4 linked regions of the Homo sapiens genome follow. The protein of the gene in region 1 interacts with the protein of each later gene in a biochemical or structural test. Each region holds a gene or a part of one and is shown in the gene's direction. Other genes may lie near its edges.

Region 1 (7,860 bases):
GCAGCTTCAGCCCCTGCCCTCCACTTCCGGTCCCCGGGCTGCTCCTCCTCTGCCCACGCAGCTACAGCAGCAGCAGCCGCCACCGCCACCACCCCCTCCACCACCACGACAGCCAGGAGCTGCCCCAGCCCCCTTACAGTTCTCCTATCAGACTTGTGAGCTGCCAAGCGCTGCTTCCCCTGCGCCAGACTATCCCACTCCCTGTCAGTATCCTGTGGATGGAGCCCAGCAGAGCGACCTAACGGGGCCAGACTGTCCCAGAAGCCCAGGACTGCAAGAGGCCCCCTCCAGCTACGACCCACTAGCCCTCTCTGAGCTACCTGGACTCTTTGATTGTGAAATGCTAGACGCTGTGGATCCACAACACAACGGGTATGTCCTGGTGAATTAGTCTCAGCACAGGAATTGAGGTGGGTCAGGTGAAGGAAGAGTGTATGTTCCTATTTTTATTCCAGCCTTTTAAATTTAAAGCTTATTTTCTTGCCCTCTCCCTAACGGGGAGAAATCGAGCCACCCAACTGGAATCAGAGGGTCTGGCTGGGGTGGATGTTGCTTCCTCCTGGTTCTGCCCCACCACAAAGTTTTCTGTGGCAAGTGCTGGAACATAGTTGTAGGCTGAGGCTCCTGCCCTTCGGTCGAGTGGAGCAAGCTCTCGAGGGCAGCACTGACAAATGTGTTCCTAAGAAGACATTCAGACCCAGGTGTTATGCAGGATTACATCCGTTTATTATCAAGGGCAACCTTGGTGAAAGCAGAAAGGGTGTGTGCTATTGCATATATATGGGGGAAAAGGCAATATATTTTTCACTGAAGCTGAGCAACCACATATTGCTACAAGGCAAATCAAGAAGACATCAGGAAATCAGATGCACAGGAAATAAAGGAAAGCTGTGCTTTGTCATTGAATCCTAAGTTCTTAGCTGCTGATGCAAGTTGTCCCCCAAGGCCATCACAAAGCAGTGGGGCATGAGCTGTGTTTCAGGGGCCACTAAATAACAGCTGGTACTGACCCCAGAAACCGCCTTCATCTCCATTCGGAAGCAGGTGACACACCCCTTCAGAAGGTGCCCTGGGTTGCCGAGTGTCAGAATATACTCAGGACTCCAGAGGTGTCACACGTGGAACTGACAGGAGACCCGCCACCGTGGAGGCAGGGGGCAAGAAACTCAAGAACGCATCAAGAGCACCAGCCCTGGGCCAGGGAAGACAGGCTCTTCCTGCAGTTTCTCGTGGACACTGCTGGCTTGCGGGCAGTCGGTCTCCAGGGTACCTGTTGTCTCTTTTCCGATGTAATAACTACTTTGACCTTACACTATATGTTGCTAGTAGTTTATTGAGCTTTGTATATTTGGACAGTTTCATATAGGGCTTAGAGATTTTAAGGACATGATAAATGAACTTTTCTGTCCCATGTGAAGTGGTAGTGCGGTGCCTTTCCCCCAGATCATGCTTTAATTCTTTCTTTTCTGTAGAAACCAACAGTTTCCATTTATGTCAATGCTAAATCCAAAGTCACTTCAGAGTTTGTTTTCCACCATGTGGGAATCAGCATTCTTAATTTCGTTAAAGTTTTGACTTGTAATGAAATGTTCAAGTATTACAGCAATATTCAAAGAAAGAACCACAGATGTGTTAACCATTTAAGCAGATCATCTGCCAAACATTATATTACTAATAAAACTTAACCAACACTTACAATTCAGTCATCAAAGTAAGTAAAAATTAGATGCTACAGCTAGCTAACTGTATCCCTAGAAATGATGAATAATTTGCCATTTGGACAGTTAACATCCAGGTGTTACAAAGTCAGTGTTAATTCTAAAGATGATCATTTCTGCCCTTTAGAATGGCTTGTCCCATCAGCAGATGAATGTGTTAAGCACAAAGCATCTTCCTTAAAGCACAAAGAGAGGGACTAACTGATGCTGCATCTAGAAAACACCTTTAAGTTGCCTTTCCTCTTTGTAGTTAGCGTTCAGGCAGGTGACGTGTGGAAAGTCTAGGGGGTTCCATTCTGGCCATGCGAGCCCAGCTCCTACCAACGTCGGTAACTTGAGCAGTCCCTGTTGCTGGCCAGAGACTGCCTGGTCGCCAGCGCTCACCATGGGTGCCAGGATGCTTCGCAGAGGCACTGTGCTCACGGTTGGACTTGGTGTCAGTGGGAAAGGGCAGTGTGGGGACTGTCATTTTTGTGATTTAATAACACACAGTGAAAATCCAGGAAGAATGAATTAAGCTTCTTCTGGGAGTTGTTTATTCCTGCTCGTGCTTAAGATTGATGATTTCGTGAAATAAAGAACATCATTTCATTTAAGAGATCATTTCATTAAGATCTCTAATCTGTTTTGAGTCTTTACAAAATAGCCAGTTATAAAATGGGGCTTGATTTGTTTAGACTGAAGGAAGACGTTTTCCCAAAATATACTACAGAAGTGCTACAATATTTGCGATATTAAAATGCCTGCAGATTGAAAATGGGGGCCACTCATTTCAGAACTGCAGGAATGGTGTAGTTACAGATCGACATAAACTCCTGCCCCCCAACAATGCCATGAGCTGCTTAGCCCAGGAGACCTGGGAGCTATGGCAGGACGGTTAGGCCAGCCGATGAGGGACTGCAGAGAGGCTACTGGAAGGTTAAGGACCCAGAGAGAAATCGAGAGGTGCCCTACAGCAGCCAGGCCTATCAGGATCCGTCACACACGGCAGCGGCGTGGACACCGGCCTGATGCAGAGCGTGACCCCTCCTGCTGGGACCTGTGTTGTAAGCTCCTATTTGCTTATCTTGTTTATTTCAAGCAGAAATCAATAAATTCCATAACCCTCTGTATTGACTGCAATGTAAGCTGCTGAGGAGACTGGTTCTGTTGGTCAGTCAGGTGTTTGCTCAGCCCTGTCTGATCACCTGTGCTGCTCTGTCCCTAACTAGTGACCCATGGAAGCTTCCAAGCAGTTTTCTCTTCATCACTACTAACAAACAAAACACTAAGAAGGCTTAGTATCGCTCTTTTTCTGCGGGGCTACTCTGAAGTACTGACTTGCTTTCCAGTCTGATTCACGTTAGCAGTGTGTACACTACTGTATCATCATCAGCTTCATCACCCTGTAAACCAGGCTCCTCTGAAGAGACTTTGGTGAGATGAACGTGAGGTAAAAATTTCGTTCGGCAAAAAGTGCAATATGTGTGGTACTTTATTTTTTATGTTCTTTTTTTAAATCTGGGGTATTAGTCTGTGCTTTGGGAGAAATGCACTAGCTCTGCAATTCCCAGCTGGGCAAGTGTGTCTCTAGTATCTCCACGCAACTGATACACTGGTCCCTGTAAGGCAAACAGCATGTTAGCCCGACAGGAAGAGGGGGCCCACTTTCACATTCCCGGTGACACTGACCGTCCCCAGCTGCCCCCTCGCCACCTCTGCCTGCACTGCCTTCTGTCACCGTGGGAAAAGGAGGCTGATGGTTCTCTACACCATCCACCTTGAGAATCCCTGCGTGGGAGAGCATCAGGGCCCACCAGGGGAGTGGGGATGGGGCTCAGGGGCTGTTCATGCCCATCTGAGCAAACCCCTTCTCTCTTCCATCCACTTTTGCCTCCTAGGAAAGAAAAAGTCAGTGGCCCTTTCTTCCTCAGATATCAAGAACTCCCAAGTGTTTAAACCGTATGCTGGAGTCAGTGGTTGGGACAGACAGGAGCCCAAGACTGAAGCCAGCCCTTGCCTCTTGTGTCCCTTCCCAACTCTGGTGCTGGAGTAATGGGGTGCTCTGCATTTTGATGGGGAGCAAGGGGGGACCCCCCCTGTAGGAGTATCGGCCTCTCCCCTGCCCCCTACCCTCTCTCGTGGACCAAAGTCTCCAGCAGAAGAGACTCATCATAAGACTGACGACTCCCCCACCTCCACCCACACACCGAGTGTCATCAGTCCTAAAGGCAGGGAAACGCTCACAGAATTCTGCCCACGGGTTAGATGTGGGGAGAAGGATATTCTCAGCTCCAGAGTGATTAGGTGATCAGCCAGAAACTAAGGCAAGGTGACAAGCAGCAGCCTGGAGTCACAGTTGGTCCCAGGCGTGTGGGCACTAAGCAGCCTCTGGAGACATGCGGGCAGTTGAGGATGCAAGGACACAGTGAGTGAGTGGCGCTCCTTTTTGGGGTCCTCCAGCCTCTAGTCAAGCCCCAGGTTCGTAAATATGTTTGTATTACATTTTAAAACCTGTATCAACAGTCACATTTAAGCTCCCTATTGGTTTAAAGAAAATTCATACTCCAGGTAACTTTTTCCCATTCGACCTCCTATAGAGACAATATGCAGTGTGTCATTTCACAGTCTCAGTCCCTGTGAACAGTGGCTGACACCGGTGCCAGGGCTGACCTGCTACACTCAAACTCCTAAACTGGGCTGCCTCTAACTGCCTCCTGGGAAGCCACCCGAGCCACTCGGTCTCTTTGTGCCTAAACATGAAAGGTGAAAATTGGAGAACAGGGAAGCTCGTAAGTTGGAGTCATTGTACAGGCAGGGATCTTTGATCATTTTGTTGCTTCTGGAATTTATTTAATTTTTTTTTTTTTTGAGACAGAGTCTCGCTCTGTCACCCAGGCTGGAATGCAGTGGCGTGATTTCAGCTCACTGCAACCTCCACCTCCTGGGTTCAAGCCATTCTCCTGCCTCAGCCTCCCAAGTAGCTGGGACTACAGGTGTGTGCTACCGCATCCAGCTAGTTTGTATATTTTTAGTAGAGATGGGGTTTCACCATGTTGTCCAGGCTGATCTTGAACTCCTGACCTCAGGTGACCCACCCACCTTGGCCTCCCAAAGTACTGGGATTACAGGTGTGAGCCACCACACCCGACCTGGAATTTTTTTATAGAACTTATCTTCAGAGCAATGTATGAAAGACAAGAGCAGTATCAGCCGGGCGCGGTGGCTCACGCCTGTAATCCCAACACTTTGGGAGGCCAAGGCAGGCGGATCACGAGGTCAGGAGATTGAGACCATCCTAACACAGTGAAACGCCGTCTCTACTAAAAATACAAAAAATTAGCCGGGCGTGGTGGTGGGCGCCTGTAGTTCCAGCTACTCGGGAGGCTGAGGCAGGAGAATGGCGTGAACCCGGGAGGTGGAGCTTGCAGTGAGCCAAGATCGTGCCACTGCACTCCAGCCTGGGCGACAGAGCAAGACTCCACCTCAAAAAAAAAAAAAAAGACAAGAGCAGTATCATCTGCCTCTGTTTCTAAACTGGACAAAGAGATTTTCTTAAAGTTTCTATCATCTCCCTTCTGACAGGTTCTACAGTGTGGTCTGAAGCACCTGTAATGTCAGAGCCCTTGTCTGGCCCTTGGTGGCAGGTGAACGAAAGCAGTGGAGCCTCTCACCTTCCAGTAGCCTCTCACATTCTTATTTTACCATTTTTGTCCTAATTAAGGTAGCCTAGCTGATTCTAGAAGACAGCCATCCTACGTGCACCCCCACCTTGTGTCCACATCTTCTCCAGGCAGGTTTCAACCTATCAGCAGACTCAGGCACACACTGGGGCACAGATAGAGAACCAGGCGGCAGCAGTGCTCGCAGACCCACCCAGGGAGAGCTGTGATGGGTTCTGCCCAGATACTCTGCTCGCCCACCCACAAGGGAGCAATAGCTTATATTTGTACATTAGTTTTACCAAGCACTTTCTCTTCTAACCCTCACAACAATTCTATGAAATTAGCTGGGGAGATACTGTCCTTATTTTTCACAGCTGAAGAAACCAAAGCTTTGGGAAGTTTGTGACTTCTCTGAGATCACAGCTGGTGATAGAAGGAGCTGGGACACGCGCTTGGGTTGACTGGCTTCTGGTTTTGGTTCTCTGGCTTCTAGTGCTGGAAGAAGCCCTCTCTTTCCCTTCTCTTTCCTCAGTAGCATCTGACTCTTTTCATAAGCAAACAGCTGTATAAACAAAGCCCCCATTTTGGTCAAGCACAGGGTGAATGTGATATTGTTCCCACAACCTTATTCTCCACTCAACAGCCGCCTGGCTTTGGGGAAGAGGCCGCCTTCAGGTGACAGTGCAGCTGTCCAGGTGGCCGTGCACTGAACCAGGCTGAGGGAGACAAAAACCCCGCAGACCCGCCTGCCTTTCAGCGTCCAGTTAACTGCAGAAGTTTAGGCTCACCTCAAAGATGTCTAGTTTTTCCAAGTTACAATACAGCAGTTTCCTACAGAACACCCCCTTCCTCAATTGCCAAGGGGCCGCATCGCACGGCATCAGGCCACCACTGCAGGCCAGCAGATTCCACCCCAGGAACGGTCATGAACTCAGCCTTTGTCTCAACGAGGGGCGTAACATTTCCTTACAGTCAAGCCCCATCAACTAGAAGTGCTTATTACTTTTAGGATTAAAAAAGTAATAACAGACTTTGACTTAATACTCTGTCTTTTCAGAGGCAAAGTGGGTGGGTAGAGGGGAGCTTTAAAAATAGAAGTACAAAACAACATCCTGGAAACATATGACCCCAGATGGAATAATGTCACATTCCCCAGTGCAGATAATGGGCTGCTGCTGGCTCTGTGGTGTCTGTCTGCAGAAGATTTGCTCAGTCAAGGAAATTCAAGTGGTGAGACCTTTCCACCATGGGTGGTAAGAGAAACCTGCCTTCACCAAAATCTCTGAAGGGGAAAGAAGTGGAGAGAAAGGTTTGCTTCACTTCGGGGACTGCAGTTTGAGAAATAAAAGGGATACAGAGATATCTGCACTTTGTAGAAAGGGCAAGATTATTTGCTTATATCTGAAGGGAGGTGGGTGGTTTTGCTGGATGTTTGGTCTGAAAGAGTTACTTTTGATAAAGTTAATCTAACTGTAGTTATATTTTCTGTGTGCTTTTTTTTAATTACTAAGAAAAAAATTGGTGAGTTCAGTAGCTTTGGTATTATGAGTGCAAATCATAATAGCTCCAATGTGAAAAAAAAAATCAAAAGTATAACTTGTCACTTAATGTTAGAAAATTGCCTAAAATGCAGTGTAATAAATAATCTCTGTACCAAATAGTAATTTAAATGGGGTAATTTTCTGCAAGGAAAATGTACTGTTTTTATGTTTCCAACCCTCTTGAATTAAAATAAAAACAACTTCTTTTCTAAGAGCCCGGGTGATGTGAATGTCAGGTTAATGCGATAGGGTTTTTGCCTCATCGGGCCTTGGGTGGAATTTTTAGAGTATGGAAGGTGGCTGTGTTCTCTGAGTTCTGGTGCTCATTTCAGGCTGCAGAAAAGGACAGTGGATAATATGTTCTCATTGACGTCAGCAGGGTAAATAATACCTTGCTCTGAATCGCCCGAGTACACGTTAGCCGCTGCAGATCGCTGACGGAAGCACTGCTAACCGCAGCCTGCACAAGGACAGGGCCCTGCTGGGCACTGCTTAATTACTGCTCCTTGATTCTCAGAGTCCCAGGGCAAAGCGCATCAGCCCAGGTAGCCTGGGCAAGGGCCTCATGCCGCGGTAGGAGGAGGGGAGGCAGATGCAGGGGTCCCCGAGGACAGGCAGCTACAGGGCAGGGGCTGGAAATGGGAGGGGAGGTGCTGCGAGCTGCCAGGCAAAAGACACTGCTACTTAGTCACGATGTCACATCTTCTCTGGGGTCTGCCAAAGGCCTCGACACTGCACGTGCGCTCACACAGTGCATTCCCTCACATGGGCGGGGCACCCTTTTGAGGCCCAGCTCCACGCCCTCAGGGTGCTGGAGGCACCATGTGCCAAGCTGCTCTCCTGCATCCTGGACCTGTTTCAGTGCCAGGCCCTGAGTGAAAGGCCACTGTTATATCCAGCTTGCTGGCAGCAGGATCTCGACTGAAATTTGGTTTCACTCAAACCATTCCAATTAAG
Region 2 (7,953 bases), on another chromosome or scaffold:
CCAGCTAGGAGAGCTGCTATTCCTTGGATGTTCTAGTTTGGGAGGTGCAGGCTTTGTGTAGCCTTCCTGAGGCTGGGCAAGTGGCAGAGCCCAGAAGCCTGTGCTCTCCAGAGTGGGAAGGAAAGAGGCTGGCAGTAATGGCTCTGTGACATCCACCTGTGGCCTTCCTCTTAATCTCTCAATTAGTCCTGGACGCATCTGGAAAGAAAGCAGAGGTTCCTAATAGGCACTCCCCCTTGTGAGTAGCCCGGGAGCTCCTGGCAGCCCCTCAGGGACTCTGCTTAGAGTGATGCCAAATGAGACAGGCCCTCAGCAGAGTATCTGTCTCTGCCTGGCAGGATGATGTCAAGCAGTAGTGATATCATTGATGAGGGCAGTCTGCAGATGGGCTCTGGTGGGTTATTTGCACCAAATCTCGGTGGACCTTTCAAACCCCAACACTGGCCTTTTTTTTCTGGCAGATAATTTCTTTATTTTTTTTTTAACTTTTTTTTTTTTGGAGACAGGATCTCAGTCTGTCACCCAGGCGGCTAGAGTGGAGTGACATAAACATGTCTCACTGCAGCCTCTACTTCCTGGGCTGAAGTGATCCTTTTTTTTTTTTTTTTTTTTTGAGACAGAGTCTCTCTCTGTTGCCCAGGCTGCAGTGCAGTGGCACAGTCTCGGCTTACTGCAACCTCCACCTCCCAGGTTCACGCCATTCTCCTGCCTCAGCCTCCCGAGTAACTGGGACTACAGGCGCCCGCCACCACGCCCGGCTAATTTTTTGTATTTTTAGTAGAGACAGGGTTTCACGGTGTTAGCCAGGATGGTGTCGATCTCCTGACCTTGTGATCCGCCTGCCTCGGCCTCCCAAAGTGCTGGGATTACAGGTGTGAGCTACTGTGCCTGGCCTAGATATTTTAAAAGCAGTGGCGGCAGCAGCATATCCTGGTGACAGAGATGGCAAGGATGGCTGAAGGAAATAGTGCTCAGGACCCTCCTGACATTCCCACTTGTTCCCCATGTCTCAGTTACAGGCCCAAAAACTGCGACTGGCATACACAAGGAGCTCTCATTATGGTGGGTCTCTGCCCAATGTTAACCAGATTGGCTCTGGCCTGGCCGAGTTCCAGGTGAGTAGACCCCAGCCAGGGAGGAGTGGAGTTTCTTAGGCTGCTTCCTCTGCTGACTTCTGTCCTTTTTGGCAGAGCCCCCTCCACTCACCTTTGGATTCATCTCGGAGCACTCGGCACCATGGGCTGGTGGAACGGGTGCAGCGAGATCCTCGAAGAATGGTGTCCCCACTTCGCCGATACACCCGCCACATATCCTTCACAGGGGACTTGGGAGTGTCTGAAAGGTAGTGGGATGGGGTTCCTCAGGGACTCATAGGAAGCACTTGAAGTGTTGTGCGTCCCTTCCTTCTCTTGGAGCTCTTCTTTACCCAGCTTCCCTGAAAAGCGACCATAGCCCCTGCGTCAGCACCTGCTCCTGTGACAAGGAGTTTTGCTCCTGAGGCTGTGCCCCCTGTCTCTGGCTGGCTCTGGCTGTCTTCACATCAGCTTGCTGCCAGAGGCAAGCCTTCCTTGTCTCCTGCTAAAGGAGATTGGGTCTCTTCTCAGATTTCTAAGTTTTCAGTCTCAGAGACCTGCATAACTGTCTCCTCCAAGCCCTGCCTGAACATTCTCCTGGATTTTTTCAGCCCCTTTAGACCTGATTCCCTTTTTCTCTTCCATTCTTTGATCCTATTGTTGTCCCTTATAGAAGAGGAGAAAGGTATGAGTTTCTTGAAACAACTTATCTGCTGCCTTCATTGTTCTTTCCTCATTTGGCCTCTCTCATCTGTCCTCTCTACTTTTTTCCTTAACTGGTGCTGTTCACATTGACAGCTCTCCCTATAGTCCTGCCTACTTATCTCCTCCCCCAGAGTCTAGCTGGCGAAGGTAAGTGTCCAGGGCGGGCAGAAGCTCCTGCCTACTCTCTGACGTGTTTCTGGAAGGAGTTGCCCCTTCTGGGTTGGGGCTGGGATTACTGGGCTAAGGTTTCAACAGTACCTCTTCCTATAACGCCAGGGCTGAGAGAGGTGGAGACAGTTGGAGTAGGTGGGTCAGAGTCCAGCCTTGGCCATGTTGACACTAGTGGTCAAGCCTCCCAGTCCAGCCAGAGCAGAACCAATGGGAACCATAGCCAGGCTGGGGTGTGTGTGTAAGGGGGAGGGGAGAATGGCAGAGGGGCAGGTGAAAATGGCAACCTTCTGTCAAGGGTGGGTGCAAGATGTAGTGTTCTGGCACTTTTAGATTTCTTAAACTCTCCCCTTGTCCATCTCACTTTCAATGCTCATACCCAGGAATGCTGCTGGGCTCCAAGATTCCCATTCAGCTGGTCCTGGCAGAGAGAAGTTTCCAGCTCTCTTAGATTGACTGGGGGAGGGGTCAATCATAGGCAGGAGAAGAACCAGAAAGAAAAGGGGATGATCTGGGTGCTCAGCCATCTTTACTTCCACCTTAGCTGCCCCACATTTTCCAACCCCTATGCCCACCTTCTTGTCCACTGCCAGCCTTCCTCCTCATGACTTTGTTTTTCTACCCCAGGACGATGGCCTGGGGCAATTTCCCTGCAGAGAAGGGGCAGTTGTTTCGACTACCATCTGCACTTAACAGGTGATGGCTTTTGCCTTCTTTAGGCCAGATCTCTTATCTGTAGTTTCTGGGGCCCTGCTCCCTCACCCCCACCCTGTTCCAGACCAGCTAGTGTTTTCCCTTGCTGGGCAGGGCTTAGGGACCAGGAAGACTGTCACTGGTGTCAGCTCATTCCTGCTCCCCCCATAGGACAAGCTCTGACTCTGCCCTTCATACAAGTGTGATGAACCCCAGTCCCCAGGATACCTACCCAGGCCCCACACCTCCCAGCATCCTGCCCAGCCGACGTGGGGGTAAGTGGCCCTGTCCCAGGGTTGGGAGTAACCATGGAGCTATTTATTTATTTATTTATTTATTTATTATTTCTTTCTTTTTTGAGACGGAGTCTCACTCTGTCGCCTAGGCTGGAGTGCAGTGGCGTGATCTCGGCTCACTGCAACCTCCGCCCTCCGAGTTCAAGCGATTCTCCTGCCTCAGCCTCCTGAGTAGCTGGGATTACAGGCATCTGCCACTGTGCCTGGCTAATTTTTTGTGTTTTTAGTAGAGATGGGGTTTCACCATCTTGGCCAGGCTGGTCTTGAACTCCTGACCTCGTGATCCACCTGCCTCGGCCTCCCAAAGTGCTGGGATTACAGGCATGAGCCACCATACCCGGCCTCCATGGAGCTATTTAAAGCAGGTAGGCAAGTGAGCACTGCAGCCAATGCCACTGTATCCCTTGCAGGTATTCTGGATGGTGAAATGGACCCCAAAGGTATGTGTTCCTCACTGCTGTGGGTACTGAATGCCAAAGAATTTCTGGGCTGGTGTTGGGATTGTGTGCAGGTTCAGGGAGCAGGACTCCTTCCCACCTGCTTCTGCTTCCTGTCCTGCCTTACTGGCTCTTTCTCCAACTCTCCCATCACCAGTCTTTCTCTTTCAAGTACCTGCTATTGAGGAGAACTTGCTAGATGACAAGCATTTGCTGAAGCCATGGGATGCTAAGAAGGTAGGAGGAGGCCACCGGGTGTCACCCACTAGTCTCTCTGCTATCCCCTTGCCATGGGGCAGGCCTTCCAGGGTTCTCTGCTGAGCACTGTCCTCATTTTCCATATTCTCCCTTCTCTCCTCAGCTATCCTCATCCTCTTCCCGACCTCGGTCCTGTGAAGTCCCTGGAATTAAGTAAGTACTCCCTGAGGTTGGCTGAGAGGTGGGGGAAGGAAGTACAGGGAGATGTAGGAGACTGATCTCTGCTCTTCCCTGACCACTGCACCCACCCTCCTATTTACATCTTTCTTTTTCTCTCCTTCCCCTAGCATCTTTCCATCTCCTGACCAGCCTGCCAATGTGCCTGTCCTCCCACCTGCCATGAACACGGGGGGCTCCCTACCTGACCTCACCAACCTGCACTTTCCCCCACCACTGCCCACCCCCCTGGACCCTGAAGAGACAGCCTACCCTAGCCTGAGTGGGGGCAACAGTACCTCCAATTTGACCCACACCATGACTCACCTGGGCATCAGCAGGGGCATGGGCCTGGGCCCAGGCTATGATGCACCAGGTGAGTGACTGTCCTGGCCATGTGCCCACTGGGTGCTGCCTGACTGGAGGGATGAAGGGGAGGTAGGTTTGAGCACCTGAGATCCTGCTGTGATCACCCACACCGCCTGTCACCTCTGCACCCCAGGATTCCCTCACGGCAGTTCTCAGCCAGTGATAACTGGTAGGTGTGGTGTTTCCTAGAAAGAAGAGGAAGGGCAGTCCCCAGATGGGCAGTGCTGTCAGGGATAGAGTAGGGAGGACGTTGTGTTGCCGCTTTCATAGTCTGGTCACTGCCACCCATTCTGGGTGGAAAGGGGCTCAGTTCCCATCAGTAATGTTGGCATCTCTGGTTTTTTGTCTGTGCCTGCAGGACTTCATTCACCTCTCAGCCACCCATCCCTGCAGTCCTCCCTAAGCAATCCCAACCTCCAGGCTTCCCTGAGCAGTCCTCAGCCCCAGCTTCAGGGCTCCCACAGCCACCCCTCTCTGCCTGCCTCCTCCTTGGCCCGCCATGTACTGCCCACCACCTCCCTGGGCCACCCCTCACTCAGTGCTCCGGCTCTCTCCTCCTCCTCTTCCTCCTCCTCCACTTCATCTCCTGTTTTGGGCGCCCCCTCTTACCCTGCTTCTACCCCTGGGGCCTCCCCCCACCACCGCCGTGTGCCCCTCAGCCCCCTGAGTTTGCTCGCGGGCCCAGCCGACGCCAGAAGGTCCCAACAGCAGCTGCCCAAACAGTTTTCGCCAACAATGTCACCCACCTTGTCTTCCATCACTCAGGTATGCGTGGCTGCCTTCCCTGCATGTCTGTCTCCCTTCCCTTTTCTCCTGCCATGTTGTTTCCCTCCCACCCTCCTTTCCTGAAATACCTACTCTATACTCATCCCCTTCCATTCCTCTGTCCTCCGCCTGCCCCATCTTTTATCCATCTTGTCTCCTCTTGCTTCACAGTGCAAACCCAAACGCTGTGGTTAAGCTTTTTTAGCTTCAAACCCTGGCTCCACCTCTTACTAGCAGTCACCTTGGACAAGTTATTTAATTTCTATAAGCCTCAGTATTTTCATTTCTAAAACAAGGATGGTTCATAAGGATCAAATGAAGTAACATACATAAAATACTTAGCACCACACATAGCCCAGGTATGCTTGACAAATAGTAGCTTACCCTTTCCTTTTATTTGCCTCCTCTGTTCCTGTCTGTTTTATATCTGTCTTTTATCTCATGCCTCTATCTTGTCCCGTCTCCTCCCCTGTATCCCCTCCTAATTTCATAGAATTCGTAGAATCAGTCAATTTCCTACTGTGGAGCCCAATTCCTTCACTTAATAGATGAGGAAAGTGGGACCTAGAGGGAAAGTGACTTTTCCAAGTTTACCCAGCAAGTTAGGAAGAGTTGAGACTAGAACTCGAAGCTCTTAGTTTAGGGCTTTTTCCACAGAGATGAAATTCTTAGCCCTTGTCTCCCTTCCTGTCCTTTTCTTCTTGTTCTCTATCTCTACTCCTCTTTTCTTTCATCCAAATGCTCTTTTCCCTCTCCTCTGCCCAACTTTTCCTCCTCCATTGCTATCCCTGGAATGTGTGTTCTGTGTTCCATCTTTACTCAGGTCCCCTCTTTTGTAGGAAAGACTGAGGCCAGATTAGCAAGGGCTCTGTTCCCAGAGTGTGGAGTGAGCTTGACTTCCCTTCCTTTCTTTCTCCTTTTCTTTCTTTCTTTTCCCACCCCCTCTGGCCTCTTCAAGGCTGTAGAACAGCAGTTCTCAACCTTAGTTCCTTATTTACTAACAATAAATAGTTCAAGTATCAAGATTTAAGAATGGTTTACTTCTAAGGCTAGGCACAGTGGCTTATGCCTGTAATCCCAGCACTTTGGGAGGCCAAGGCGGGAGTTCAAAACTAGCCTGGTCAATATGGTGAGACCCAGTCTCTACAACAAATAAAAAATTACCCAGGTGCAGTCGCGCACGCTTGTAGTCCTGGCTACTGGGGAGGCTGAGATGGGAGGATCACTTGAACCAGGAAGGTTGATGCTACAGTTCCAACTATGATTGCACCACTGTACTCCAGCCTGGGCAACAGAGTGAGGCCCTGTCTCAAAAAAAGAGAATAGTTTACTTCTGGAGTAGATTTAAAATTACCCCTGTGTTAGCCTCACTATATCACTTTCATTCTGATAGGCACTTTTTTTTTTTTGGAGACGGAGTCTCGCTCTGTTGCCCAGGCTGAAGTGCAGTGGTGTGATCTTGGCTCACTGCAACCTCCCACTTCCTGGGTTCAAGCAATTCTCCTGTCTCAGCCACCCGAATAGCTGGGACTACAGACGCCTGCTACCATGCCCAGCTAATTTTTATATTTTTAGTAGAGACGGGGTTTCACCATGTTGGCCAGGCTGGTCTCGAACTCCTGACCTCAGGTGATCCACCTGCCTTGGGCCTCCCAAAGTGCTGGGATTACAGGCATGAGCCACCACACCCTGCCAACTAATACACATCCCTGGGGTTGAGTAACTGCACTCAACCCCAGGGATGCCCGTGAGAATGTGGAATGTTGTCATGTTTGTTTTGGGAATGGTTGTAGCTAAAGAAGGTGGGAAGCTCTGACTGAGAGTTCTTGGGGTATACACTGAGCAGTAAGCTTCCCTCTTTTTACTTCTTTTCAGGGCGTCCCCCTGGATACCAGTAAACTGTCCACTGACCAGCGGTTACCCCCATACCCATACAGCTCCCCAAGTCTGGTTCTGCCTACCCAGCCCCACACCCCAAAGTCTCTACAGCAGCCAGGGCTGCCCTCTCAGTCTTGTTCAGTGCAGTCCTCAGGTGGGCAGCCCCCAGGCAGGCAGTCTCATTATGGGACACCGTACCCACCTGGGCCCAGTGGGCATGGGCAACAGTCTTACCACCGGCCAATGAGTGACTTCAACCTGGGGAATGTGAGTACTCAGGCTCCTTGCTCAAAAGCAGGGGAGTGGGTGAGGGTGGGTCAATGGGGCCTGAATGGCATGGCTGGTGCACTGTGAATGGGGAGATCTAGGTGGGGTGGGTGGTGGGGAGATCTCCTCTCCCCGGAGGTAACATAGCACTGCCAGCTTGGGGCTCCTCTCTTCCTGCGTTTGACCCTACTCCTGCCCCTCTATTTCTGCTCAGCTTGCTCTTTGATGACTTCTGCCTTGACCCGTTCTCTTCCTGGCATGCACATGCTCTGGCCCAGCAGGTACGGTGCCCATACTTACTTCGGGCCCCGTGCTCGCTTCTGTCGCTCTGCTTGCTGCCACCTCCCTCTGTCATTGCCTCTGTTCCTGGGGTGGATGAAGGTTGCTGGGCAAAGGGGATATGTTAGCAGGGCTAGGCAGGACACCAGTTCTAAATCCTACTTCCTAAAGATTTGTCTGTATGTCTATAGCTGGAGCAGTTCAGCATGGAGAGCCCATCAGCCAGCCTGGTGCTGGATCCCCCTGGCTTTTCTGAAGGGCCTGGATTTTTAGGGGGTGAGGGGCCAATGGGTGGCCCCCAGGATCCCCACACCTTCAACCACCAGAACTTGACCCACTGTTCCCGCCATGGCTCAGGGCCTAACATCATCCTCACAGGTGAATGGGGGTGGGTGGTGATGGGAAATGGAAGGAGGAAGTGACACATTCACTAATGAGTAGGAGATTGAGGGGTCTTGGAAAAGTTTACAGGACATGGGGTCCTCACCTGTCTCTTCTACCCACAGGGGACTCCTCTCCAGGTTTCTCTAAGGAGATTGCAGCAGCCCTGGCCGGAGTGCCTGGCTTTGAGGTGTCAGCAGCTGGATTGGAGCTAGGGCTTGGGCTAGA
Region 3 (7,953 bases), on another chromosome or scaffold:
TCCCAGCACTTTGGGAGGCTGAGGCGGGCAGATCACAAGGTCAGGAGATTGAGACCATCCTGGCCAACATCATGAAACCCCGTCTCTACTAAAAATACAAAAATTAGCTGGGCATGACAGCACATGCCTGTAATCCCAGCTACTTGGGAGGCTGAAGCAGGAGAGTTGCTTGAACCAGAGAGTCGGAGGTTGCAGTGAGCTGAGATCACGCCACAGCACTCCAGCCTGGTAACAGAGTGAGACTCCATCTCAAAAAACAAAAACAAACACCTAAGCATTTCCAATGATAGGCTAATATGAAAGTCTAAAATGAAAAGTTATTTAAAGAAATCTAGATCTTCATATTTAAAACCAAATAGAAACACTTTTGGAATATATTTACCAGCAGAATACTCAGATATGGCATTCTTATGTTTGAGACTTAGAAAAATAAGCATCTTGGCCAGGCACGGTGGCTCATGCCTGTAATCCCAGCACTTTGGGAGGCCAAGGCGGGCAGATCACAAGCTCAGGAGATCGAGACCATCCTCGCTAACACGGTGAAACCCCGTCTCCACTAAAAATACAAAAAAGTAGCCGGGCGTGGTGGCAGGCGCCTGTAGTCCCAGCTACTCGGGAGGCTGAGGCAGGAGAATGGCGTGAACCCAGGAGGCGGAGCTTGCAGTGAGCCGAGATCACGCCACTGCACTCCAGCCTGGGTGACAGAGCGAGACTCCATCTCAAAAAAAAAAGAAAGAAAAATAAGCATCTTTTCTCAGAGTGTCTTAGTAAGCTGCTGAAAAGGACAAAAGACTCTTAAAATGGTAATTTGCACAGTGTATTTGATTTAAGGTCTCTTTGAGTATTTTTGTACCCAATACAGAGGGTAACAGGAAATAGAATTAACTGAGAAAAAGCCCCTGCTGCATCTGTTGTGTGCCTAGTATCATTTTCAGATCACCAAGTCAGATTTAGGACACATTTAAAATGTGTGTATCAAAAATATTTAGCTCTCCGGATTGAAGTCTACTCTCCATCCATTCTCTGGGCAAATACTGACTGAGAACTTACTGTGTATAATGTAGTCTGGATCTGGGAAAGGAAATAAAGATGGGTAACAGTGGGTCCCCACCTCAGGTAGGTTTTCAGCTGCCCTCAAGAATCTTGGGATCCAGGGTTGTAGAATAAATACAATATTTTATTACATCAGTAAAAGTCATCTCCAAACTGTTATTTTTCTTTTATGTATCCAAGAAATGTCTTCTGCTTTTCAGAGCACCAGGACTGGTTAGACTTAATATTTTCATACCCTGGGCAACTGTAACAATTCTATTCCTCTTCATGGCCATTGGTAGGGGAATGCAAAATTTTTGCATCCAAGATTGCCACGGCGCCCCCTACATGCACACTGAACTCCTCATCTGCCCAGCTAGCTAATCCTGTGCCTTATGGGTTTGTAGTAGTTTTTATACTGGAAATCAGAGATCACAGGACTGGAAGGATCATGGAGTCTTACCTCATTTTAACAATGATGAGCAAAATGAGCGAGGTGTGGGGTATTTTTAAGTAACTCTTGCAGAGCGAGGTGAGTAGAAGAGCCAGTTCTCAAATGCAAGTGCTGAGGCCCTCCTTTGCTGTCTGTGGATTGACTTCTTTTCCTTTTATGTTGTTCTGGTTTTTAAAGGCAGCAGCCTCCTTGGAAAGACGAAAAGCATCCTGGGTTCAGGCTGACATCTGCACTTAACAGGTACATGGGTTGTTTCCTGGTAGGAGTAGATTTTAAAGCAATTTAACTGTCCTGATATTTTTTACATAGCATCCAGTTGCCAGAGTGTGTTTATGTAAGCTGTGTTGATATGACATGTTCAAAACAAAACCCACCATTTTTTGAGTGTCTACAGGGGAAAGTATAGAGCACACGAGGTCTGGGATGAGACTCCCAGGGTTTGCATCTTGCTGTATGACCTTGAGTAGATTTTTAAACTTCTGATTGCCTCAGTTTACTCATTTGAAAAATGGAGATAATGCTACCTAGATCATGGGTTGGTTGTGAGGGTTGAATAAGATAATACCTGGGAAGCATATGTGCTGAATAAACATCAGCTATTATCATGATCACTTTGGGCCAGACTCCAGGAGTAAGAGTTCTACCTCAGCCATTTTTTTTCAATCCTGACAACACCCTACAAGAATGAGTATTATTTTCCATTCTAAAAGGTTAAGTGACTTGTTTAAGGGCCTTAGCTAATAGGTGAAGGACTAGGATTTGAAAAAATGCAGCTGAGCATGGTGGCTCACGCCTATAGTCCCAACACTTTGGGAGGCTGAGGCCAGAGGATCGTGTGAGTCCAGCAGTTTGAGGCCAGCCTGGGCAAGATGGTGAGACCCTGTCTCTATGAAAAAAAAAAAGGCGTGGTGGCACGTGCCTGTGGTTCGAGCTACTCAGGAGGCTGAGGTGGGGAGGATCACCTAAGCCCAAGGAGGTTGAGGCTGCAGTGAGCCATGTTTGCGCCATTGCATTCCAGCCTGGGCAAGAGAGAGACGCTGTCTCAAAATAAAAAAGAAACCCGATGAATGGTGCAAAATTTTAAATATACTCAAACAGAAGAGTTATAAAAGGCCTGTGGTGCCCATCCTCAGCTTCACTCATTATCAGCATTCTGCCAGTCTCTCCAAACCTACCTCCCACCTCAGTCCCGTGACTGGCTAGTATAGTATTGTACCTTGAAATGTCTCCAGCAGTTTAAGGCCGACGAGAACCTTTTTTAAAAAACATAACCACAATGCCGCTATTACACTTAACAAAATTAAAAATAACTCCTTAATATAATTCAATGCCTGGTCGGTATTTAGATTTTCCCAGTTGGCTCTGCATTCGTTTGATATTCTCTTGAGTCTCTTTGAATCTGTAAAAAGAGGCTGGAATCTGAACCCAGGTCTCTCTGATCTCAGCGGCCACGCTCTTTCTGTTGCACTGTGGGTTCTGCCCTTGTCTGCCTCTTCCCTCCTCTGAAGCCACGTGGCTTCATAGCCACCTGAGGCTGTCACTGGAATGAACCACAAAGAAGCACTGTAGGCTAATGAAGTTGCTTACCGTAAAGTCCTTTCTATGGCCGACAGTTTGACCTTATGATGAGATAAATAGATAATCATCTCTTGCAACCAAAGCTGTGTAGACATTGAAGCTATCTGGGAGAATTTCAGAAATTTGCTATACATTAGTGGCTCCCACATTTTCTTTTAGGACTACTTTACAGCCTTAAAAAACATGGAGGCCTGGCGCAGTGGCTCATGCCTGTCATCCCAGCATTTTGGGAGGCCAAGGCGGGCGAATCACCTGAGGTCAGGAGTTCAAGACCAGCCTGGCCAACATGGTGAAACACCGTCTCTACTAAAAATACAGAAATTAGCCAGGCATGGTAGCGGGTTCCTGTAATCCCAGCTACTTGAGAGGCTGAGGCGAGAGAGTCGCTTGAACCCGGGAGGCAGAGGTTGCAGTGAACACCACTGTACTGCAGCCTGGGCGACAAGAGTGAAATTCCATCTCAAAAAGTAACACTAGTAAAATAAAATAAAATAGGCCAGGCACAGTGGCTCATGCCTGTAATCCCAGCACTTTGGGAGGCTGAGGCAGGTGGATCACCCGAGGTCGGGAGTTCGAGACCAGCCTGGCCAACATGGTGAAACCCCGTCTCTACTAAAAATACAAAAGTTAGCTGGGCATGGTGACGCACGTCTATAATCCCAGCTACACGGGAGGCTGAGGGAGAAGAATTTCTTGAACACGGGAGGCAGATGTTGCAGTGAGCCGAGATCACACCACTGCACTCCAGCCTGGGCAACAGAGCGAGACTCTGTCTCAGAAAAAAATAATAAAATAAAATAAAAAAAATATTGAGGCCCTCAAAGAGTATTTGTTTATGTGAGAATATCTATTGATATTAGAAATTAAACTGAGAGATTTTTTAAAGATACTAGTGAATTAAAAAAATAATAAGCCCATTACATGTTAACATAAATTATATCTTTTTGAAAAGAAACACAAAAAAAGTATTGAAAATAGTGACAATGTTCACCTTTTACAAATCCCTCCAAGGCAGCTGGGTGGTCTGTGCCTGCGCTCAGCGGTGGGGGCATCACACCTCACGTGGCCGCTGGGGAAGCCCGCCGTGCTTGGGAGAGAGCGAGAGTGAAAAAACAGAGGACACTTTACTATCATTTTGAGAATAGTCTTGATCTTACCTTCTCCCTGGAAGGGTTTTGCAAACCACTGCTCTAAGTGATCCTTTACTTAGAAACAGCTACTCTCAGGTGGAGAAAACCTAGTGCAGCCACAGGCTAAACTGGCCACAGCCAGCTTCCGAGCTGGGAAGAATAGGAAGCTCTTAGACGGAAGCCATGAATCCGAGGCCCACCTTGTTGAACTTGATCGCCATGCCATCAGCTTCAGCATATAAGGCTATATGAGTCTAAGTTAAAATATTCTGGAGTGTGGGCGATCCTCAGAGGCTGTTAATTGATATAAAGAACTTCAGGTAGGTCCTAACCCCTTATTTGATGGTTGATTATAAATCAGTTATTCTTGCCTTCTTTCCTGTTGGTAATATTCAACAAAGACTATTGCATTTTCACTAAGGAAAACGGATTTTCAGCCAGCCTCTCTCCTCCCCTCCTTAGGACCAATTCTGATTCTGCTCTTCACACGAGTGCTCTGAGTACCAAGCCCCAGGACCCCTATGGAGGAGGGGGCCAGTCGGCCTGGCCTGCCCCATACATGGGTAAGACACACAGGCCACTGCTGACAGCAGCTGTGCTTGCTCATTCTGTCCTAGGAACCAAGGGAGAGAGAAGCTGAAGTGGTGTTTGCGCTTCCCGGTTCAGTGATCTTAGAGAGGCAGCTCGTGGCAGGGAAGCGTGTGTGTCCATGATGCAGTCAGGATGGATGGAGCTCCCAGCGTCCCCTGCCTCTGCCCTGCTTCCTCCACAGCACGCTCTCCCTCTTGGTGTCTCTTGGCCCTCTTCTGGGCACCCGTCATCTTCTAATAACTTCCTGACTGGTCTCCTGATTTCCAGTCTCACATCCCTTCAATCCAGTTTTATGTTAAGTTCCCCAAGAGTCCTCTTTCCCCACCCAGGATCTGAACAAACTGAGAAATACAACTAGAAGTGACAGTCAGAGCTAGATATCACCTTTATTACTACTAAGACCAGGTTGGAGGAAGTGACTGTCTCTGTAGGTTGGTGGGCCTGCTGAGACTGAACCCCAGCATGAGGCTGACTCCCCCTGAGTGGCTGGCAGCACTGGCCAGTGTGGTCCCCTGGGAGGAGGGGTCAGGCAAGCCTCGGGGAGGGAGGGTGGAGCAGAGGCCTGCTGCCTTGAGATGGGGGAAGAGGAGGTCGGGCTGGAACTGTGCATCACCTGCTCAGTTGCCCCCTGGCCACTGTGAGTAAGGGGATGGAGAGAGGCCAGGAGTAACCCGGAGTGGGGAAGAGGCCCACTCATGCCATCTCACAGCTCTGCTTCCAGAGCGAACCCAAACCTGATCATCTTGCTCTCCCACTTAAAATCCTCAGTGCCACCCCTCACCTTCAGGAGAAAGAGCCCAGATCTTCTTTGGAATGACATGAGCCCCAAGGCCTGGCTCCTGTCTGCCTCTCTCCCTTTTCTCTCTGCTCCCCCGCCTCACACCCAAGGTAGCCATGCGAACCACTTTGGGTTCTACTGGTGTTTCTTCCTGTTCCTGTCTCTTCCTCTCTCTCTCACTCCTGGCCAGCACCCTCTCCATCCGTAAGCCTCAGCTTGTGTGTGTCCTCATGTCTGTGGAGCCATCCTTGACCTTCCTTCCTCTCAGCTCAGAGTTATCGTGTCCTTCTAACATCCCAGACTGCTCTCTTAGCACCTGCAATGCTTGGCTGCTTTTTTATGTGAACATGCATCTCTTTCTCTGCTCAGTGTAGATTTCTTGAAGGCAGCATCTTAATGGTCTTGTTCTCTCCAGCCCCTAGCACAGTGCCCGGCACAGAGGAGCCCGTACTGATGGAGAAGTGTGAAGAATCACACACTGGCTCACATGTGCACGGCATTTGCCAAAACACCCTCTCGGTGCTGGCACCTGACCTGTACATGAAGTGAGGCTGGTCATTCAGACACATTTCAAGCCTACCTTTCTGGGGTTTATAATCTAGAAAGAACAATGGTCTTGAATTATCCATTCCATATGCAGATTGACTCTTGCCCAGAAACTTTCAGGGCTGTGTATTTGTTCTTGAAACAGGAATAAATAAATCTTTAGCCAAGAAACCAGCTTTTCTGGTTTTCTTTGCTTTTTGGACAATTTAAAGCCTAAATGGCCTCTGTTCCTTCCAGGAGAACACTTATGATCGTATTTCTTTGTATATAGCAGGGATAGTACTGAATAATAATTGTTGCTATATTTGTTCTATTGGTGCAATTCAGAGAAGACTACATTTGCTTAAATGATTGTTTGCTTGTAAACTATGGGAGCTTTCAGAATTGGTTAGGGACATCTACCCATGCTTCCATACATGGGAATATGAAAGTTGGCAGTGATGTTGAAATTGATGTTGGAATTGGATATGGGTGCACTGCTCACTGCTTAGAGGAGTGGGGTGTGTGGGAAGAGGGATGAGTTTAGTTTCAGGATAGGTAGAGATGGGAATATGTAAACAAAGCCTAAAAAAAGCAGAGGCTGTAATCAGTGGGGGTGCCTGTGAGCACAGCAGGATCCTAATCTCCATGGACCGGGAGCCAGCTAGACAGACAGATTTTTACCCTGGAGCTCCTGCATTTCTGCCTCTGCCGATCCTTCATTTACATTACCCTCTGCAAAGTTTACACTTCTCTAGAAAGGGCCAAAGGCCTAGAGAAACAAGGCAATCACAGGTAATTCAAGTGAGGATTTTTTGAGGCTTGCATGCTAAGAAAAAGAAAGTAACTGAAGAAAGAAATTACCTGAGCTGAAGTATTCATTCTTAGCGATGTAGCCTCTGAGAGAAGAGGTGAGAAATGTCAGAAGGGGTAAGTGAGGATGGAATAAGAAAAGCAAAGGAATGTAAACATTGGTCCAGGTAGACAGAGCAATGAGAAAAACAGGAAGAAAGAAAGAAATCCTGGATCAGGGTTCCTGCGTTGACTTGAGAATCGTGGTGGTCTCTCCTTTTCAAATCAGCAGTTAGAAATTGTTGGGCTACAATATCTGACAACCATGGAGGGTGGGCTGGCCTCCAACTCAGATGTCTGAACTGTGTGCCTGCTCCTGCAGTTGCCTTGCAAGTATAGCAGAACTCAGAAACACATCCTAATATGGATGTGTTTACATGGGAAAGCCAGTGTTTAAAATATTATTCAAGTCTCCAAGGATGGAAATTATTTCTGGAGAATTATATTTGTTGGTGGGAGCTATTTTAAATAGTTTCATGTATTTTCCTCCTGTGTTTCATTAAAGTTTTTCATTTTCTTTCCTTTTGGATTTTAAAACTATCAACTGGCTTTGCAAAAAGGTATTTCTTATAGGACCAACCAAAGAAAGATTTAAACAGTGATGGGAAAATATAATTGAAGCCCAGAACTGGGTTCTATGTTCGAAGCAATAATAACTCTTCTTTCCCTGGGAATCTCTCCTAGGCAGAATGATGCAGCCACACTTTTTTGTTATTGTTGTTGCTGTTGCTGTGAGCCCATGAGGAGAGCATCTGCTCACGGCTTAACTACATGAGCAATAAACTATGATACATTCATGAGTGGAGATTTGTGTCACAAGAAGACAAAGCCTGATACATGTTGAGTAATTTTCATAATAGCTATTGAGTTCCATGACAATTAGGCATAAATGATAAGCAGTTGGTATAAATGACAGAAATAAATTTTTATGGAACCAAACAGGATTTTTATAATTTCTCTCTTTTTGTTTAATTATTCAGAATCTATAAAGAGGGAATGTTGGCCATTTCCCT
Region 4 (5,298 bases), on another chromosome or scaffold:
GACTTCATCCATCCAGTGACTGCCAGGCCTCACTGAGGCTAGAGACTTATACTTTAGGCATTGTGTCTCAGCTCCTCTGAGAGCAAAACACCAAATAAACAGCCTTGCCTTCTCAATCACAATTTTACTAAGTAATTTGGGCTTTTAACTGGTTCTCTCAAACCTGTCAGGTTATTGAATTCTCTTAGCCTTTGTCAAATAGGTGGGTCCCTAGAGTCTGACAGGACAGAGTCAGGGTATGAGCACCAGAGTGCTCGGGAGAGCCCCATGGAGACTTCAGGTGTACACCTGTGTCCATAAAGGAAGAGAAGGAGAAGGGGCACAGCTCCTGCCTCGAGGCCTACTTCCTCCTCCTGCACGATGCTGACAGTGAAGGAGAATCGTGGACACGGAGCACACTTTTGGAGTAAGCAAGCACTCCAGATCCTGAATAGTCAGGGTGTCCCGGCCTGGCCTGACCCCTGGTGTTTGACCAAGAGTCATCTGTTTGCAGGCTTATGTTTGGGACAATAATAAGGATCTGGCGGAGTGGCTAGAGAAACAGCTGACAGAGGAGGATGGTGTTCACTCGGTAATAGAGGAAAACATCAAATGCATCAGCAGAGACTACGTCCTCAAGCAAATCCGCAGGTGAGACCAACGTGGGGAACTCCACTAGAGAAGGAGGGCTAATTTCTTTGGAATAAAAAGTTTCCAAACAAATCATGAGATGATCGCAGAAATCTTATGATCTCTGCAGTCTCTTGCTGTTTGAGACAGCTGTAGTTGACCCACAGGTACAGATATGGCCTGAAGCCCAATTCTTTTTCAGCTACTGCTCCCCAGGGGCACTTAGTAATCTCAGCTAGATGAAGGCTTAATTCACTGTGCCCACCTCTTAGCTCTGAATGCTGATACTCAAACCGGATGAACAACTCTGGGAGGAAAGCTGATTGTGTGTGTGGTGGTTTCCTGGGAAACCACCTCCTCACCTCCTGAAGCCAAGAGTTAGCTGTATTCTTCTAGAGGCTTCAGTCTGCTCCATAGGATCGGTGGTAGAGACTGCAGGGGCATTTTTGTAAAAGTTTATTTGGAAACATTTCACTTACAGAAAAGTTATAAAATTAAAAACAGTACAAAGAACACCCCTATATATAATATCTGTACTCAGATTTACCTGTTACATTTTCTCCCCGTTGCTATATCACTTATGAGTGTGCCTGCCCTCCCATATGTGTATACATTTTTCCTCTTTCTGAACTACTTAAGGGTGTTACATATATCATGGCCTTTACCCCCAAATATTTCAGTGTGCATTTGCTGAGAATAGGGATACTTTTACATAACCATCATAAAATGATCCACTTTTGTAAATTTAACATTGATTAAAAACTTTTATCTGATATCTACCATCTGTAGAACATTGCTCATTTTGAGTTTGTCTGATGTCTCCCCATGATGAGATGCAGGTGAGGCACTCTGGCCAGAACCTTCACAGGGCACCACATCTGGGGGCACATGCTGTTTATCTGCTCCTCCTCGTGTTAATTTCATCCGCTGGTCAAGATGTTGCTCCATTTCTCTACCGTATAATTACTGATTTTCCCCCCTTGCACCTAATAAGTAGTCTGCAGGAAGACATTTTAAGGCCATGCAAGTATCTTGCTTTCATCAAAATTTCCCTCTGGTGCAGTCTTTACGATGAGCTTGCAAAATGATAACTTTCCAACTCCAGCACACCCTCCACAATTACCAGTCACCACTCAGTCCTCACTCCTGCCGATTCTTTTATATATACATTATTGGTACAGACTCATGAAGTTCTATTTTTTACTGATTTATAATTCATTGCTGGGCTGCTTTTGATGCCCCAATTGCTGTCTTTGTGACATGCCCCCATTGGCATGTTTTGGGTTTTTTTTGGGTTTTGTTTTGGGTTTAATTCCTTTTTCAACATAGCAAAATGTTTTGGGTTTGTCTTGCACTACCTTGGCTGGATATTTGTAATATAGGGAAACAAATAAGGTGAGGCGTGACTAAAATGTCTGCAGTGGACGGTGCACACATGTTTATTGGGCAGTTCTTTAGCTGTCCTCATCTAGACACTTCTGCTTCTCTTTTCTTCACCATTCTCAATCTTCCTTTCCAGCTTGGTCCAGGCCAATCCAGAGGTTGCCATGGATTCCATCATCCATATGACGCAGCACATATCACCCACTCAGCGAGCAGAAGTCATACGGATCCTCTCCACAATGGATTCCCCTTCCACGTAGGAAGAGCTTCCTGCCTGTCCCTGCCCTGTCTCTGGAGAAAAGGGCTAGAGCTGCCTTTTACAACTGTAACCACTGTAATGAGAAGGCACAGGAGACCCAGCACTGGAGTCAAATGGCATTTTACTTCCTCTCGTTTCAGGTTATGCATGACATCCTGGGATGTAAGATCACAGAATCCCCCTCCAGCCCACCAGTCACACCTACCCCATTCAGTATTTATTACCCTGGCCAGGCCTAGTCCTCCACTCCCTGCACAGGACTGAGAAGGCAATGAAAGGTACAAACATGTACCATGAGGTCTTACTAACCAAAGTAGGGCTGCCCCTCCTGTCCTGACAGCCCCTTGGCCTCCCAGCATGGGGAAGCGTGAGGAGTTGCCCAGCAGTGAGCAGCCCCCCTCACTCCTGGCCCCATGAGCCGCAGCCACAGGCAGCAGAGGAGGGCTAAGGAGAGGAGGAAGCCTCAAGTCCATTGTTTATTACCCCGACTCTTAGCCCAGCACACAGTAGGCACTGGAGAGGAATGATTCCCAGTTTAACCACACTACGGTACCTTTTATGAAGAAAAATTAGAGCATAAAATCTACTACAAGCTCCATAGGAACTCAAAGATGAGGGCAAAACTGTGAGCCAAGAAGCAGAGAAAGAAAATAGAACCAGTTATTCTTGATTTAGGGGACCTCAACCTTGGGTTCAGTCTCTGAGGACAAAGGGAAAGGTAGTTGTTGGCCTGCCTCTCGCCTGCACGTCACTGCTGGACTAGCTGTCGCATGTGGCTGGGAGCTGCAAGGCCAGTGCTTGAGGGGCCCCAGCAGTTCCACAGGTGGTGAAGCCTGAGTTGGCAGAGGAGGAGCCAGAAGAGAACTGCCCTTTCTGCACTGGTGGAAACTAGTTATTTATGCCATGTGGAGAGCCAGTGAGATAGATAGATAGTCTGTTTGTTTTGAGGACTTGGAAAGTTGTTCCTATGAAGCCTGGAGCTTGGATGGTTTTGAGAGGTTAATGGTGCCTCCACACTCACTCTTCCCTAGTTCCAGGATTACTGTCCTAGCAGCTAACGGTTCTACTCTCTTCCCCAGAGTGTAGACAGGCAGCAGGTCTCCCCACAGCTCTGAAAGGACCCTGGTGACAGCTACACCCTCAGCACCAGGAGCTGGCCTTCCTGATGAGGGAGGCTTCCAGGAAACACAGAATCCACATGACCTTAAGATTATTTACAACTCAGTCATGGTGCTGCTGTCCTCCAGGCTTACTGGCCCCTCCTGACTGGCATCAGGGGCTTCCTCAGGTGGTGGAGAGAGTTTACTTTCAACAACTAGTTTATTCAAGAAAAGAACTTACTGATTCCTCTGTTCCTAAAGCAAGAGTGGCAGGTGATCAGGGCTGGTGTAGCATCCGGTTCCTTTAGTGCAGCTAACTGCATTTGTCACTGATGACCAAGGAGGAAATCACTAAGACATTTGAGAAGCAGTGGTATGAACGTTCTTGGACAAGCCACAGTTCTGAGCCTTAACCCTGTAGTTTGCACACAAGAACGAGCTCCACCTCCCCTTCTTCAGGAGGAATCTGTGCGGATAGATTGGCTGGACTTTTCAATGGTTCTGGGTTGCAGGTGGGCACTGTATGGCTGGGTATGGAGCGGACAGCCCCCAGGAGTCAGAGCCTCAGCCCGGCTGCCCTGGTGGAAGGTACAGGTGTTCAGCACCTTCAGAAAAGGGCATAAAGTGGTGGGGGACAATTCTCAGTCCAGGAAAATGCATTGACCATTGCTGGCTATTTGCTTACCTAGTAAGAATTGGATTCATTTTTGACCAGATTATTCTTCTATGCTTTTTTGCAATAAATCAAATCCCACATATCTACAAGTGGTATGAAGTCCTGCACCCCCCAGGAGGCCTGTCCAGGCATGTCTTCAGAGGCAGGGTGGGTTACACTCATTTACCTCCCCTCTCCCCACCAAATTATGACACAAACGAGTATGTTTCCTCTCTAGAACCCTGTAATGCCTCCTCCCCCATCCCCAGAGCTCCTTACTGTAGGTCTTACCCTGGACAAGGATTTTTTCAAGTTGGAGGCACAGAACATGAGCAATCTGACATTCCCACAGCCCCTCAAACATGCAAGGCTACTAAGGCAGGAGGAGTATAAATGATGGATATTGACCAAGACCTGCTTGGACGGAGACCGCCATATTATCTGTTCTCTTCGTTCACAAAACAGCCTTCACTTGTCTCAGAATTTGATGGACACATACTGTGATGAGCAGGAGCTTCAGATGCACTCTTTACACATTTTGTTGAAATAAACCTCTACATTTGTAGAAGAGTTACAGTTTGTCATTTCAATCCATGCCCAGCCACCTCATTTCTTGTTCTGCTTTCAGCAGGGGCTCAGTGTGGGGCAAGCCCCTCCATGGCCCTGTAACACCTAAAGCCCTTTGTCTCCTGAACTTGCATAAAGATGATGGGTAGGCAGTAAAAAGCTGGCCTTGGCCAGCCCTGTCTTATCCGCTGAATCAAGGTCAAACTCTGAAAGGCTACAAATGCTCGGGAACCCCGTAGCAGAGGGTCAGTTTTTTAGTTTCTGTTGAGTTTTTCAGGATGGGAAACTTCTTCCTGCTGAGAGCTGGATGGGAGTCCTGGCAGGAATGTCCCCTCCAAAAGAGAATGTCTTTAGAGCAGGGACAAGAAAGACCACAGCTGTTTAGTGAGGATAACAGCTCCAGGCCTTGGAAGCCCAGAGCCCACTGTCCTCCTCAGAAGTCCCTTCTCAGCATACAGGAAGTTGAGAGTGCTCTGATAACTCAGTGTAAACACTGGGGCCGCATGGCCCTTGTTAGAGATTTGAGAGGAAGGTTTTAGATTTTCTTTCTTTAGCTATTCATGGATTTTTAACTCTGGGCACAAAAAGGCACTCGGGGCAGGAAGCTCATGATTCCATGCCGTCAACCCTCTGCCTCAGTTTCTCTCTCTAAAAAAACTTTCTATGGGCTGGGCATGGTAACTCACCCCTATAATCCTAGCACTTTGGGAGGCTGAGGTGGGTGT

What was found.
Region 2: of the proteins of SIK2 (region 1) and CRTC2, one has a biochemical effect on the other in vitro, tested with the Homo sapiens proteins (2 studies listed by BioGRID).
Region 3: of the proteins of SIK2 (region 1) and CRTC3, one has a biochemical effect on the other in vitro, tested with the Homo sapiens proteins (one study listed by BioGRID).
Region 4: of the proteins of SIK2 (region 1) and ACACA, one has a biochemical effect on the other in vitro, tested with the Homo sapiens proteins (one study listed by IntAct).

What each region holds. Positions count from the first base shown.
Region 1 is NC_000011.10:111,723,739-111,731,598, forward strand, and holds the end of SIK2 (serine/threonine-protein kinase SIK2), read left to right. Parts: coding exon 1-391; 3' UTR 392-3,226; coding exon of another isoform or gene 3,227-3,319; 3' UTR 3,320-4,314; coding exon of another isoform or gene 4,315-4,472; 3' UTR 4,473-7,117; downstream 7,118-7,860. Other genes in the region: PPP2R1B (serine/threonine-protein phosphatase 2A 65 kDa regulatory subunit A beta isoform), read right to left, coding at 4,315-4,472. UniProt on the Homo sapiens protein: Serine/threonine-protein kinase that plays a role in many biological processes such as fatty acid oxidation, autophagy, immune response or glucose metabolism.
Region 2 is NC_000001.11:153,948,227-153,956,179, reverse strand, and holds part of CRTC2 (CREB-regulated transcription coactivator 2), read left to right. Parts: intron 1-1,013; coding exon 1,014-1,115; intron 1,116-1,190; coding exon 1,191-1,307; intron 1,308-1,863; coding exon 1,864-1,925; intron 1,926-2,573; coding exon 2,574-2,642; intron 2,643-2,810; coding exon 2,811-2,914; intron 2,915-3,207; exon of another isoform or gene 3,208-3,281; coding exon of another isoform or gene 3,282-3,300; intron 3,301-3,345; coding exon 3,346-3,375; intron 3,376-3,529; coding exon of another isoform or gene 3,530-3,544; coding exon 3,545-3,609; intron 3,610-3,733; coding exon 3,734-3,783; intron 3,784-3,917; coding exon 3,918-4,162; intron 4,163-4,513; coding exon 4,514-4,920; intron 4,921-6,795; coding exon 6,796-7,065; intron 7,066-7,279; exon of another isoform or gene 7,280-7,346; intron 7,347-7,535; coding exon 7,536-7,722; intron 7,723-7,850; coding exon 7,851-7,953. UniProt on the Homo sapiens protein: Transcriptional coactivator for CREB1 which activates transcription through both consensus and variant cAMP response element (CRE) sites.
Region 3 is NC_000015.10:90,602,722-90,610,674, forward strand, and holds part of CRTC3 (CREB-regulated transcription coactivator 3), read left to right. Parts: intron 1-1,663; coding exon 1,664-1,726; intron 1,727-4,656; coding exon 4,657-4,757; intron 4,758-7,953. UniProt on the Homo sapiens protein: Transcriptional coactivator for CREB1 which activates transcription through both consensus and variant cAMP response element (CRE) sites.
Region 4 is NC_000017.11:37,084,270-37,089,567, reverse strand, and holds the end of ACACA (acetyl-CoA carboxylase 1), read left to right. Parts: intron 1-493; coding exon 494-630; intron 631-2,128; coding exon 2,129-2,252; 3' UTR 2,253-4,576; downstream 4,577-5,298. UniProt on the Homo sapiens protein: Cytosolic enzyme that catalyzes the carboxylation of acetyl-CoA to malonyl-CoA, the first and rate-limiting step of de novo fatty acid biosynthesis.